Linked DNA regions of Homo sapiens. The protein of the gene in region 2 purifies or fractionates together with the protein of the main gene of each other region. This does not show direct contact. Each region holds a gene or a part of one and is shown on either strand. Other genes may lie near its edges.

Region 1 (4,808 bases), on a different chromosome or scaffold from region 2:
GCAACCACGCCCAGCCTGGACGTTGACATTGATAGAATTCATGATTTTAGTCATATTTCCCCAGTCTTATTTGTATTCTGTCAATATTTGTACATTTAACACTACAAGATGTTGCTAAGAGATATGAAAGACCAAAATAAATGGAGAGATATATCATGTCCATAGGGTGGAAGACTTAATATTATTAGGATGGCAATTCTCTCCAAATTCAATGCAACCTGAATCAAAATCCCAACATGGTATTTTTGCAGACATTGACAAACCTAGACTGGGCAAAACAATTTTGAAAAAGAACAAAGTTGGAGGGCTAACAGCACCTGATTTCAACACTTATTACAAAGGAACTGTAATGAAGAAAAGTGTTGTTGGCATCAAGATAGACAAATGGATCAATGAAACAGCACAGAGAGTCCAAAATTATACCTACACATATACACACAACTGATTTTCAACAAAGGGTGTAAACGGAGTTTAGTGAAGAAAAGATAGGCTTTTCGAAATGGTACTGGAGGGGCCGGGTGTGGTGGCTCACGCCTGTAATCCCAGTAGTTTGGGAGGCCGAGGTGGGCGGATCACGAGGTCAGGAGATCGAGACCATCCTGGCTAACACGGTGAAACCCCATCTCTACTAAAAATACAAAAAAAATTAGCTGGGCATGGTGGCGGACGCCTGTAGTCCCAGCTACTTGGGAGGCTGAGGCAGGAGAATGGTGTGAACCCGGGAGGCGGAGTTTGCAGTGAGTAGAGATCGCACCACTGCACTCCAGCCTGGGGACAGAGCAAGACTCCATCTCAAAAAAAAAAAAAAAAGAAATGGTACTGGAAGAAGTGGATATCCATATTGAAAAAAAAAACAAAAAATTTTGATTCAAACCTTGCAACATATACAAAAATTAACTCAAAATGGATCACATATCTAAGTATAAAACTATAAAACTTCTAGAAGGAAACACAGGACAAACCCTGGTTTACGAAATGTTTCCTTAGATACAACACCAAAAGCACAATCCATATAAGAAAAATTGATACACTGGATGAAATTCAAAATCTCTTTTCCTTACAAGGCACTGTTTAGAGAATAAAGAGACAGGCCACCCATTGGGAAAAATATTTGTAAATCACATATCTGATAAAGGAATATGTAAAAAACCTATAAAACACTCTCAAAAGTCAATAATTATAAAACAACCCAATAAAACAATGGACAAAAGATTGAGCACATCCTTCTTCGAAGAAGATATGGATGGCAAATAAGCACCTGAAAATATGCTTATCATTAGTCATCACGGAAATGCAAATTAAAGCCACAATGAGATACCATTGAGATATGAGATACAATGACATATGTATCCATTAGAATGGCTTAAATTAAAAAGACTGTCAGTAACAAACAATGGTGATGATATGAAGGAAGAGAAATTCTCATACACTGCTAGTAGAAATGCAGAATGGCACGAGTACTTTGGAAAACAGTTTTGTACTTTTCTGAACGTTAAACTAAATCTGCCCTATGAACCAGCTATTCCATCCCTAGGTTATTTGCGGAAGTGAAATGAAAGCATATGTTTGTGCAAAAACTTATATACAGATGTTCACAGCAGTTTTTTTGTAATAATCAAAACTAGAAGCAACTCAAATGTTTATAACAGGTGAGTGAACAAATCAATGTGACATATCCATACAATGAAATACTACTCAGCAATAAAAAGGAATGAACTATGGATACATATAACAACATAAATGAATTTCAAAACAATTATACTAAGTGAAAGAAGCCAGAATACACATACACAAAAGTACATCTCATGATGTGATACTATTATATATAATTCTAGAAAATGAAACTAATCCATTGGAACACAAAACATAATTTAAAATTTTAAAAGAAAAAAAAATCGTTGACTGTTTAAGAGCAAGAAGGATAAAGAGCAGTATTCTAAATTGGTCGAGTACTAACCTTGGCCACTGCACATCGAACAGCCATTGACCTATCAGTCAAGAGAGACCTGGCATTCTTGTAAATATCACGATGGGAGGAAGCTGCTGCACCACCCAGTCCACTTAGAACTTTCTGTAGACTCATTAAGATTTCACTTCGCCCTTGAGACTAGACATGTATACAAAACAAAACTATTTTGTAAAATAAATTCCATATTTAAACAAGAACACACCAAGACAAAAGTTCTTTGGGTCTAATGGTCTTACCTCCAAATTATAAACGGTAAATAATGAAAAGTACAATAAAATTAAGTATTCTAGAAAGTACCTGGCAAGTAAGAATAGTCAATTAAATAATATCTTTCTAAAAAATTAGGTTTTAAGTAAATATATTCCAATATTTCTATGAATTACTGAAGTACATACAATATAATGAAAACATGAAGAGATTCAAAAGCTTCAATATCATATCTCAATATATAAAATATTTCAGAACGTAAAATATTAAGTAAAAAAGTTGAGAAATAATATATAAATGATCCAAAAAAGGAAGCAGAAAACATCCAACACATTTAAAAAAACATGTCAGAAATACAGCAAACCTTCATCTTCTTGTGACTAACTCAAACTGTTATATCCATATTCTCATAGTGCTTATTGTTATTTCTGATAGTATACTCATCACAGTGTATCACAATGCTTATTCACACTTAGCTCTCTTCCACTAAACTGTAAGTTCTTTGAGGTCAGGACCATCTTTGTATGTTTAATGCCTGACAAATAATAAGTCCTCAATTCTTTTTTAATGAATGAATAGACAAATAGTTCCCAGAAAAGGTATCCAATTCTAATCCAATGACTGGTATCACTGAACAGGGAAATAATTTAGACACAAAACACAAAGGGACAGGAAAAAGGTGATGTGACAAAGGAGACAGAGATGGGAGAGATGCATCTACAAGCCAGGGAAGATCAAAGATTTCCAGCAACCACTAGAAGGTAAGAAGGAAAGGAAACATTCTTCCCTAGATCCTTCAGTGGAAACATGGCCTTGCTGACACTTTATCGCAGACCTCCAGCTTCCAGAACTGTGAGACAATAAATTGTTGTTGTTTTAAGCCACCCAGTCTAAGGTAATTTATTACAGTAACCAGGAAATTAACACATTAGCTATGGCACCAAAAAAAAGAAAAAAAAAAAAGCCAATCCAAAAGTACCATAGGACTAAATAAAAAATAACAAGTAAACCTATTCCTTGTCAAAGAAAAGCATTCTTTCCCTTCCCCCTGATATACATTAAAAGAAGGGACAAGTAATAATTTGTAATTACCTCCTTGCTAAGCAATATGAGACCACAGTGACAGAAAAAGAAACAAACATATTTTAGCTGACATCTAACTCTTGCCACAAGCAAATATTCAAATAATATTGGTTGTAAAACTTACCTCTGCACTTTTCAGAGATTTCAATAGATTATTTACCGTTTCTGGAAATGCGCTGCCCAACATTCTCCCCATTTTTTCATAAAATGCTCCGACACAAGCCACCGCAGCCCTGTAAGAAGTGACAACTTCACTAGTCATTGTCCAGGTTAATGATACAATTATACTTTTCTCATTTTTAGAAATCAATTTGCATTTGTCTAGGACACTTTTGGCTATAATCCTTAATTTCAACTATCAAAAACAATTTATGCTTCATAACTGCAACAAATACTATACTCTATTTACACTGTATTCTTGTTAAATACTATAGTTAAATTGTATTCTTGTTAGGAATACAAAAGAATCTATATATGTACATAATAAATCATACCCATTCTTTGGGAAGAAATCCAAGCTTTTCTTTTTTTTTTTAGGGGGAGACAAAGTCTCACTCTGTCACCCACGCTGGAGTGCAGTGGTGTGGTCCTGGTTCACTGCAACCTCTGCCTCCTGGGTTCAAGCCATTCTCCTGCCTCAGCTTCCTGAGTAGCTGGGATTACAGGTGCATGCCACCATTCCCAGCTCATTTTGTATATTCAGTAGAGATGGGGTTTCACCACGTTAGCCAGGCTGATCTCGAACTCCTGACCTCAGGTGATCCGCCTGCCTCGGCCTCCCAAAGTGTTGGGATTACAGGCGTGAGCCACAGCGCCCGGCCCCTAAGCTTTGCTTCTATGAAGACTTTCCAAATTATGTCAAGCCTCAACAATCCCTCTCTTCTTTCATTATATGTAACACTTAATGTCAATCACTGATTTTGACAAAATTATATCATTTACTGTGTTGTAACTTGACCATTTTATATGTCTCTATCTTGTCCTGCCAGTGGAAATGTAAACTCCAGAAACGGAATATAGCTCACATATTTGCATTGCTCACAGTGTCTACCTCTTAATTTACAAATAATACTATACTATTAGTAAACCTGTAAAATTTAATCTAAATTACATTAACAGAACACTTGGAAGAATAAAGTAATAATAGCAACACACTTCTTCAGGAGCAAGAAATGACCCCAGTGTCACTTAGGTCAATAGTAAGTGAATAGCTGTGGGTTTAGCTTAAAGGCAAAAGTAGGACATGGTGGTTAAGAGCGGATGCTTTGGAGTCTAGCAGACCTGTGCCTAAATCCTAGAACCTACCATCTAATAGCTATGTGTAGTTGGATCTTGGAAGTGGGCAGGTGGTCTACCATGAGGCGAGTCATTCCCGCTCCAACAAATAAAAATAAATAAAAGCTATGTGATCTGAGCAATTTACAGATAAGAGAGGTTAACTAAATTTAGCTCACAATCAAACACATAATAAACAGTAGAATCAGGGAATCAACTTTCACCTCTTCAACTCCAAATCTCATGCTTTTTGATACCCTGTAGGCTGATAATA
Region 2 (3,500 bases):
ACAAGCACAGCCCAGACTCCGCAGCCACAGGGAAAGAGCAGGGCACACCAGAAGAACATGCAGGGAACATGTTTAGAGAGGTGTGCCCAGGGTTGAACTGGGGTTTCAGCTGAGGGTCCGGAGGATGATGATAACGATACCGAAAGCTCTGCGTCTGCGGTCTGGTACCTGAGAACCCAGAATGGTCCTCCCCTAGAGATGACTGCCCATGCTGGACCACGCCTTCCTAACTGGACCACGCCTTCCTAACTGGACCACGCCTTCTTAAATGCACTCCTGGGCTGGTTACGGGCAGCAGCAAGAGGACTGAGGACAGCACGAGCTTGGTTCTCGGGGCCAGGGTCTCTGTGGCCCCCACCCCACGCTGCTGTACGCCAGGGATGTGCCTGCTCCCAGAGGGGCTTCCTGAAGTACAGACACAGATGGGCCTCCGTCCCAGAAATGACACCAGGCTTGGGGTGACCCAGGGACTCACTCACTCGCAGACAAAGGTGCCTGGTGGGATGTCCTGCAGGGACCGCACGCCCCAGCCCATGTCCCGCGTCCGGTAGAGCTGCAGCCTTGCCCTGAAAAATAGAGAGTAGTGGTGAACCCAGGCCACAGCCTCAGCCTGTTGCCACAATGGTCAGCAAAAGCCAGCTGGTGCCACGTCACTGAAATGAGGAAGAAAACTGGTTCTGTATCCGAAGCGTTCGATGCTGCAGGCACCTCACAGACACGGCATCTCGCACTCTCAGGGAGCCAAGAACCCGGGGATCAGCCAGGAGCACCCCAGCCCACAACCTCGGCAAGTCACTGGTCCTGGCCGTGGCTCGGTGTCCCCATCTGTAACATGGGGACAGAGCTGGGCCTGGGCCACTAGGCACTGTGAGGGGCAGAGGTGCTAATACTAGAGAAGCCTATAGCTGGACCAGGCTGTGGTGACACCTGCAGCCCAGCCTGCTCCCGACAAGGAGCCCACAGGCCCCTCAGGGCTGGGGGAGGGTGGCAGGGGAGGTGGCGGTCGAGGGTTTCTCAGGGCTGGGGGAAGGTGGTTGGGCAGGCCTGGGGGAGGGTGGCCGGGTAGATCTGGAGGAGGGCGGCTGGGCGGTCCTGGCATGTGGGCCTCTGAGGAGCCCTCAGAACCACGTGCCTCGCGTCTGCCCATCTGGCATGTGTCCCGTGTCTGCCTCGCGTCTGTCTGGCGTGGGTCCTCACCACCAGGCCTTTCTACCATACCAAGGACAGAGACTGCCTTTCACCATGAACCAAGTTTATCGAGGTCACAAAAAAGTCAATACTATAAAAATGAGTGTTCAGCTAAATTTAAGTGTGCATAACTTTCCCTTATGACTCAGAGGAGCTTTGACTTCTCCAATCTCGGGCACATTTGCGGAGGAAATGCTCAAGACCAGAATCCAGGGAAAGGAGACGCAGCTGCTGGGCGGTCAGGGGACCAAGCCCAGCTGGGGAAGGGCGCTGGGCAAGCCTTACTCCATGAGCGTCCTGAGCAACCCAGGAACAAGGAGTCCACGCAGCCTGAGAAGCGTTGGGACATCACCTCACTGTTAGGGAAGCCCAGAGAACAGAGAATATTTAGAAAATGACTGGAGTATTAAAATAGAACTACGACAGCCCTAACCTGTTGAAGAATGTTCGCATGAACTCGGTAACAAAGGTAATTCTTAGGCCAAGTCCGTTCCTCTGCTTTTAGCTGGACTGACCCAACAACCTGCTCCTTCTCTCATGCCGAAGTCTGTGCTGGGGGAAGCATGACTCGTGATTTATGGCACAAGTGACATTTCTAGAGGATAAAGGGCTCAGGTAACTTGTCGGCTCTATCTGCAAACACACATGTGCGTGCATCCAAACACGTTAAGTTCTTGTCTGTCGGGGTGACCTCCGTGCTAATACGTGCTAATACGAGCAGAATGTGGGGCTCCGGCAGGAAGCTGCCTCTCACCTGAGACCATTCTGTACGACGCGATTTCGGCAGTTCCTCCAGCAGGAGCACGCGTGGTTGCATTCGAAGATCAAGGGAGGCTCCGCCATGTTGAACTCTGGCAGGAGCCGGCCATCCTGTGGACAGATGAGCAGCAAGGGCCCAGCAGAGGTTACTCACTCTTTAATTGAACTGACATCAACCCATTTCTACTAAGTGCCCAGTGTGGCTTAAACGGACATAAAAACGATGGTTTCTGGCCAAACTTGAACACCCACCTAGGGAAAAACTCCATGTGTACGGTTTGGATGAGAAGCCTCCACCCAGATGCCCACACAGGTTGTGGAGACCCCCTGGAGCGCTCCCCTAGGCCCAGCCTGGGGCCAGCTTCTGTCCACCCAGGGCCTTCCCAGCCCCCAGCCTGGGCTTCTCCAGCCTCACCGAGGCTGCCAGCTCCTGGGTTGCTCTGCTTTCTTCAGCTGGTTGGGGCCTCCTGCACCCTCCTGCACTCCTGGCCTCCTTGCCTTGCAAATCCTCAACTGTGGAGGGACCCAGCCCTCTGCTCCCCTTTCTACCCCCCTGAAGCCAGGCCAGGTACAGCAGCACTGGGTGCAGATGCTCCCCCAGGGCTGTGTGAGCTGAGGCGCGGGGCCCAGGGCTGCCCAGGCACACTCTGGCTTGACGGCTTCAGGGGCTGCTCTGAACAATTAGGGCGCTCCTCAGAACATTCCTTCCTGCGCCCCCTCAGCAACACTGTCCACCTGAAAAGACACCACTCGGACATGAGCTTGGTGGCTTTCTGAGCGTACCATCTCCATAGCCCTCACTGGCACGAATCCTTTTCCCATTGGAGCCTCTAATTCAGATGGGTAAACACTTGACCCTCCATGTCCACTCTCCTCCAAAGTCTGCTTCCAGAGGGGACGCCTGTTGCCTCTCCCTGCTCGCGTCTCTTTACCCAGGCCATGCTGGCTTCCGCCCCCACCGTGACCTCTGAACTCGGGAGACCAGGAACTCTCCGCCTCTGCTTAGACATCCCTCCCCTGAATTGCACCCCTGCTAGCCAGGGCTACTCCCCACTCCCGTCTCCTCCTCAGCAGCCTCCAACCTGGGCTCCTCCGAGGACCAGCACCCAACAGAAACTTCCAATCCTGTGTCTCCTCAAGCCCAGCGCCCACACTGATGCTCCCTGTACCCAGCCCGGCAGCACCCTCCCTCTTCACACCCCTCACACTCAGCAAGCACAAGGCACAGCTTACCAGATACACACAACATAAGCAGCACCTCCTCCTGGGGCCAAGCCAGGCTGACGCTGCCCACCCCCGCCACCATCCAGGCAGCCACAAAGGATGCAGACCCCAGCCCCAGGGAATCCGCAGCCATGTCCTCGGCTCACGACCCTGACTCGGGTGCTGGTGCCCGCTGTGCCTCCCCTGCCTGTCACACCCAGCTCACCTCCAACTCCTTCCCGACGCTGCCACGACAGCGCTGGGGTCACAGACGCCTGCACTGTTTTTGCAGACCCGGACCAGCGGCACTTACCACCTGAGCCCACGCACACGAGGCCGCCCTCACCTTG
Region 3 (4,808 bases), on a different chromosome or scaffold from region 2:
GCCGCCCTGTCTGGGAGGTGAGGAGCGTCTCTGCCCGGCCGCCCCGTCTGAGAAGTGAGGAGCCCCTCCGCCCGGCAGCCGCCCCGTCTGGGAAGAGAGGAGCCCCTCCGCCCAGCAGCCGCCCCGTCTGGGAAGAGAGGAGCATCTCTGCCCGGCAGCTGCCCCGTCCAGGAGGTGGGGGGCAGCCCCCGCCCGGCCAGCTGCCCCGTCCGGGAGGTGGGGGGCGCCTCTGCCCGGCCGCCCTGTCTGGGAAGTGAGGAGCCCCTCTACCCGGCCGCCACCCCGTCTGGGAGGTGTACCCAACAGCTCACTGAGAACGGGCCATGATGACGATGGCGGTTTTGTCGAATAGAAAAAGGGGAAATGTGGGGAAAAGATAGAGAAATCAGATTGTTGCTGTGTCTGTGTAGAAAGAGGTAGACATAGGAGACTCCATTTTGTTCTGTACTAAGAAAAATTCTTCTGCCTTGGGATGCTGCTAATCTATAACCTTACCCCCAACCCCCTGCTCTCTGAAACATGTGCTGTGTCAACTCAGGGTTAAATGGATTAAGGACGGTACAAGATGTGCTTTGTTAAACAGATGCTTGAAGGCAGCATGCTCCTTCAGAGTCATCACCACTCCCTAATCTCAAGTACCCAGGGACACAAACACTGCGGAAGGCCACTGGGTCCTCTGCCTAGGAAAACCAGAGACCCTTGTTCACTTGTTTATCTGCTGACCTTCCCTCCACTATTGTCCTATGACCCTGCCAAATCCCCCTCTCCGAGAAACACCCAAGAATGATCAATAAATACTAAAAAAAAAAAAAAAAAAAAAAAAAAAAAATTTAAAAATCAGCAGGGCATGGTAGCATGCACCTGTAGTCCCAGCTATTTGGGAGGTGAGAGGATCACTTGAGCCCGGGAAGTCAAGGCTGCAGGGTACTGTGATCACAGTACAGCACTCCAGCCTGGGCGACAATGAGACCCTATCTCAAAAGAAAAGAAAAAAAAAGTCAAAAGGTATATTCCATTTAATGCACTCATCGTAAACAGAGATCACTGCCATGGTCCCTCCCAAGTTACCGCAGAGTCTTCACAACCGTCCAGTTCTCCTTGTTCAGCTGGGCCTCGTCCTCATCCTGAAAAGCGATCTGCTCCGGCTCCTTGTTATCATTCACCTTCCACAATAGGATGACAGCATCTGCAGGGTGATTCAGTAACAGTGATCCACGCTTCACCCACACTCCTTCATATTAGGATTTTTATTTTCATTTTTTTTTTTTTTTTTGAGACGGAGTCTCACCCTGTCGCCCAGGCTGGAGTGCAGTGGCGCAATCTTGGCTCACTGCAACCTCTGCCTCCCAGGACCATCCTGGCTAACTGTCTCTACTAAAAATACAAAAAAATTAGCTGCATGTCAGGATTTTTAGGGTATTAAAACAACATTTATGTTGTTCAGTGGACACTATGGCCAGGATGATTTACTTCCAAGCATTTCAACAGGGAAAGTAGGCAAATTGCCTTCTGAGCTAAAACTCCAAAATCAAATTCATAACAGATCAGAGCTATACAAAATCACCTTAAACAGAAGGGTCCCTAGGCCAGCAAATGCCACTGCAAAATGACTGGCTACATTAATAAATCTGAAGGCATAACCTATAAATAGCTGAATAGAAAAACAAAACAGCAAAGAACCCTCAGTGCAAGGGTTGGCAAATGTTCCTAGCTCAGAAACCTTCAGCAAGTCACTTAGCATCTTGATGTCTCAGTTTCCTCACCTGTAAATGGGGATAATAGGCAGGGTGGGGTGGCTCACGCCTGTAATGCCAGCACTTTGGGAGGCTGAGATGGAAGGGTTGTTTTAGCCCAGGAGCTCAAGACCAGCCTGGGCAAGAGAGCAAGACCTTGTCTCTACTAAAAATCAAAAAAATTAGCCAGGTGTGGTGGCACACACCTCTGGTCCCACTACGCAGGAGGCTGAGGTGGGAGGATCACTTGAGCCCGGGAGGTGGAGGCTGCAGTGAGTCCTGATCTTGCCACTGCACTCTAGCCTCAGTGACAGAGCAAGACCCTGTCTCAAAAATGAGGATAACAATATATCTACCTCACAGGCTGTTGTGAGGATTAAATTGGCCAATGTATATAACACACTTACAACACAATGGCTGGCAGATAGTAAGCCCCATGTAAGTGTCAGCTATTAATACCATTATAGATATCAGGTACTTTAGCCTGAGGTCACCCATTGTCTAAGTCCAATAACTCCCCACATTCTGACTCTACGATTACCACGTAACCTTCTGACCATCCCTTAGCTTCCCTTTTAGGAATGTGCACAGCAGGACAGTGAATGAATGAGGTTGTGAGGACATACGCATTCCCATTCTTTGTTTTTCTTTCTTTTTTTTTTTTTTTTTTGAGATGGTGTTTCACTCTTATTGCCCAGGCTGGAGTGCAATGGTGCAATCTTGGCTCACCACAACCTTCGCCTCCCGGGTTCAGGCGATTCTCCTGCCTCAGCCTCCCGAATAGCTGGGACTACAGGTATGCACCACCACACCCAGCTAATTTTGTATTTTTAGTAGAGACGAGGTTTCTCCATGTTGGTCAGGCTGGTCTCGAACCCCTGACCTCAGGTGATCTGCCCACCTCAGCCTCCCAAAGTGCTGGGATTACAGGCGTGAGCCACCGCACCCAGCCTGCATTCCCATGCTAAGTTAACCGGAATCCTATTCGCACACATTAGTCTGGGAGCTTGGTTAACATGCCATTGGCCCTGATGGATGAACACTCTCCACGTGCTGACAACAGCAGGTTTCTGGGCCTCCAAGACCAAGGGACTTTGGAAAATGGGGGCTGCCATGTGCAACCTCAGGGCAGACAGCAGGTAGCCACCCCCAGGTGGCGCTCCTGCTCCCCACTTTTCCCTCTACAAATCAGCGTGCGCGCGCACACACACACACACACACACACACACACACACACACACACATCCCTTCATGCACTCTGGGTATCATGGCACTGAACTCAACCAGGTCTCTTTTCCTCCTCCTGCAAAAAAAAACTTTAGATTTCTGTTTTATTTTGTAATAGTTTCTAGATTGTTTTAAAGTATGGTAAAAAGGTTTACTTTTTTTTTTTTTTTTTGAGACAGACTCTCACTCTGTTGCCCAGGCTGGAGTGCAATGGCCCAATCTTGGCTCAGTGCAACTTCCACCTCCCAGGTTACAGCGATTCTCCACCTCAGCCTCCTGAGTAGCTAGGATTATAGGAGCGCACCACCATGCCCAGCTAATTTTTGTATTTTTAGTAGAGATGAGGTCTCACTATATTGGCCAGGCTGATCTCAAACTCCTGACCCCAAATGATCCACCTGCCTCGGTCTCCCAAAGTGCTGGGATTACAACATGTGTGAGCGACCGCGCCCAGCCTGGTTTACTTTTTCCATATAGTTTTATCCCATTTAAGCACAGGCAGAAAACAAGAATCAATCTATTCCCACCAAACAAGCAAGCACAAATCACAAGGCCATTCATTAATGACACTCCCGGTATGCTCCCTCCCCAGCACCCTCCAGCAGCCCGGCACTGCAGACACCAGGACTCCAAAGCAGCATCAGTCACAGCAGGGAATGGGAGAAAACACACAGATGTCAAACCAGAGGAGCTGCCAAGCTGGGTACCGACGCGGGATCTTACCCCGACCGGCACTGCTGGAGCGTTTCAGAGGCTACTATGGGTATTACAACAAGTATGTCACTGTGAAGAAAGGGAGCATTGCGGGGGTTTCCACAGTGTTGGCAGCTTAGGTGCTTTTCAGCTACTGCCTTTCTTACAGGGAGATCAAACACGAGCAGCTACTCAGGGCCCACTGAAGAGGGGCCAGTGGGAGGGCACACTGCACTTCTGAGCATGGCACACCTCCATGAGGAACTTTGCCATTGCTGAATTCTTTCATATCCCAGTTTAGAATTCATGCCCAAATAGCCCGGGCGCGGTGGCTCACGCCTGTAATCCTAGCACTTTGGGAGGCCGAGGCAGGCAGATTGCCTGAGCTCAGGAGTTTGAGACCAGCCTGGCTGACAAGGCGAAACCCCATCTCTACTAAAAATACAAAAATTAGCCGGGGGTGGTGGCAGGCGCCTGTAATCCCAGCTACTTGTGAGGCTGAGGCAGGAGAATCGCTTGAACCTGGGAGGCAGAGGTTGCAGTGAGCCAAGATTGTGCCACTGCACTCCAGCCTAGATAACAGTGAGACTGTCTCAAAAAAAAAAAAAAAAAAAACTCCCAAAGCCAATTAATTACTAACACAGTCCTAAAGCCATTTAATTAATTACACAGAGACACAGAACTGACTCTGATCACCACAGATGTTAAACTAACAATCCAACAAAACCAGAACAGTCGCCTTGCTTGGGATGTGACAGAATGGTAAGTGCCTTTCCATCTCGTCTTAGAACAGCCTGGTGGGAGCTTGCGGGAAAGCAGCTGTTTTCAAACAGGTGTTCCTGGTTTCATCTTGCTGTCCTCCCTCCCTGACTCTACCACATTCCCTAGAACAGTATTTTACTGAACTACCTAAATGACAGATTGAGAGGGTCAGCCACACCTGAACTAAAAAGCATATCCAGGCCGGGCGCAGTGGCTCACGCCTGTAATCCCAACACTTTGGGAGGCCGAGGCAGGTGGATCACCTGAGGTCAGGAGTTCGAGATCAGCCTGACCAACATGATGAAACCCTGTCTCTACTAAAAACACACAAAAAAACTAGCCGGGCGTGGTGGCAGGCGCCTGTAATCCCAGCTACTCAGGAGGCTGAGGCAG

What was found.
Region 1: the proteins of EHMT1 (region 2) and HEATR5B fractionate together in Homo sapiens (co-fractionation; one large-scale study listed by BioGRID). This does not show direct contact.
Region 3: the proteins of EHMT1 (region 2) and CHAF1B purify together in Homo sapiens (affinity purification with mass spectrometry, with the first as the bait; one large-scale study listed by BioGRID). This does not show direct contact.

What each region holds. Positions count from the first base shown.
Region 1 is NC_000002.12:37,073,528-37,078,335, forward strand, and holds part of HEATR5B (HEAT repeat-containing protein 5B), read right to left. Parts: intron 3,493-4,808; coding exon 3,384-3,492; intron 2,108-3,383; coding exon 1,958-2,107; intron 1-1,957.
Region 2 is NC_000009.12:137,814,505-137,818,004, reverse strand, and holds part of EHMT1 (histone-lysine N-methyltransferase EHMT1), read right to left. Parts: coding exon 3,497-3,500; intron 2,059-3,496; coding exon 1,943-2,058; intron 567-1,942; coding exon 480-566; intron 1-479. UniProt on the Homo sapiens protein: Histone methyltransferase that specifically mono- and dimethylates 'Lys-9' of histone H3 (H3K9me1 and H3K9me2, respectively) in euchromatin.
Region 3 is NC_000021.9:36,387,929-36,392,736, reverse strand, and holds part of CHAF1B (chromatin assembly factor 1 subunit B), read right to left. Parts: intron 1,187-4,808; coding exon 1,069-1,186; intron 1-1,068. UniProt on the Homo sapiens protein: Acts as a component of the histone chaperone complex chromatin assembly factor 1 (CAF-1), which assembles histone octamers onto DNA during replication and repair.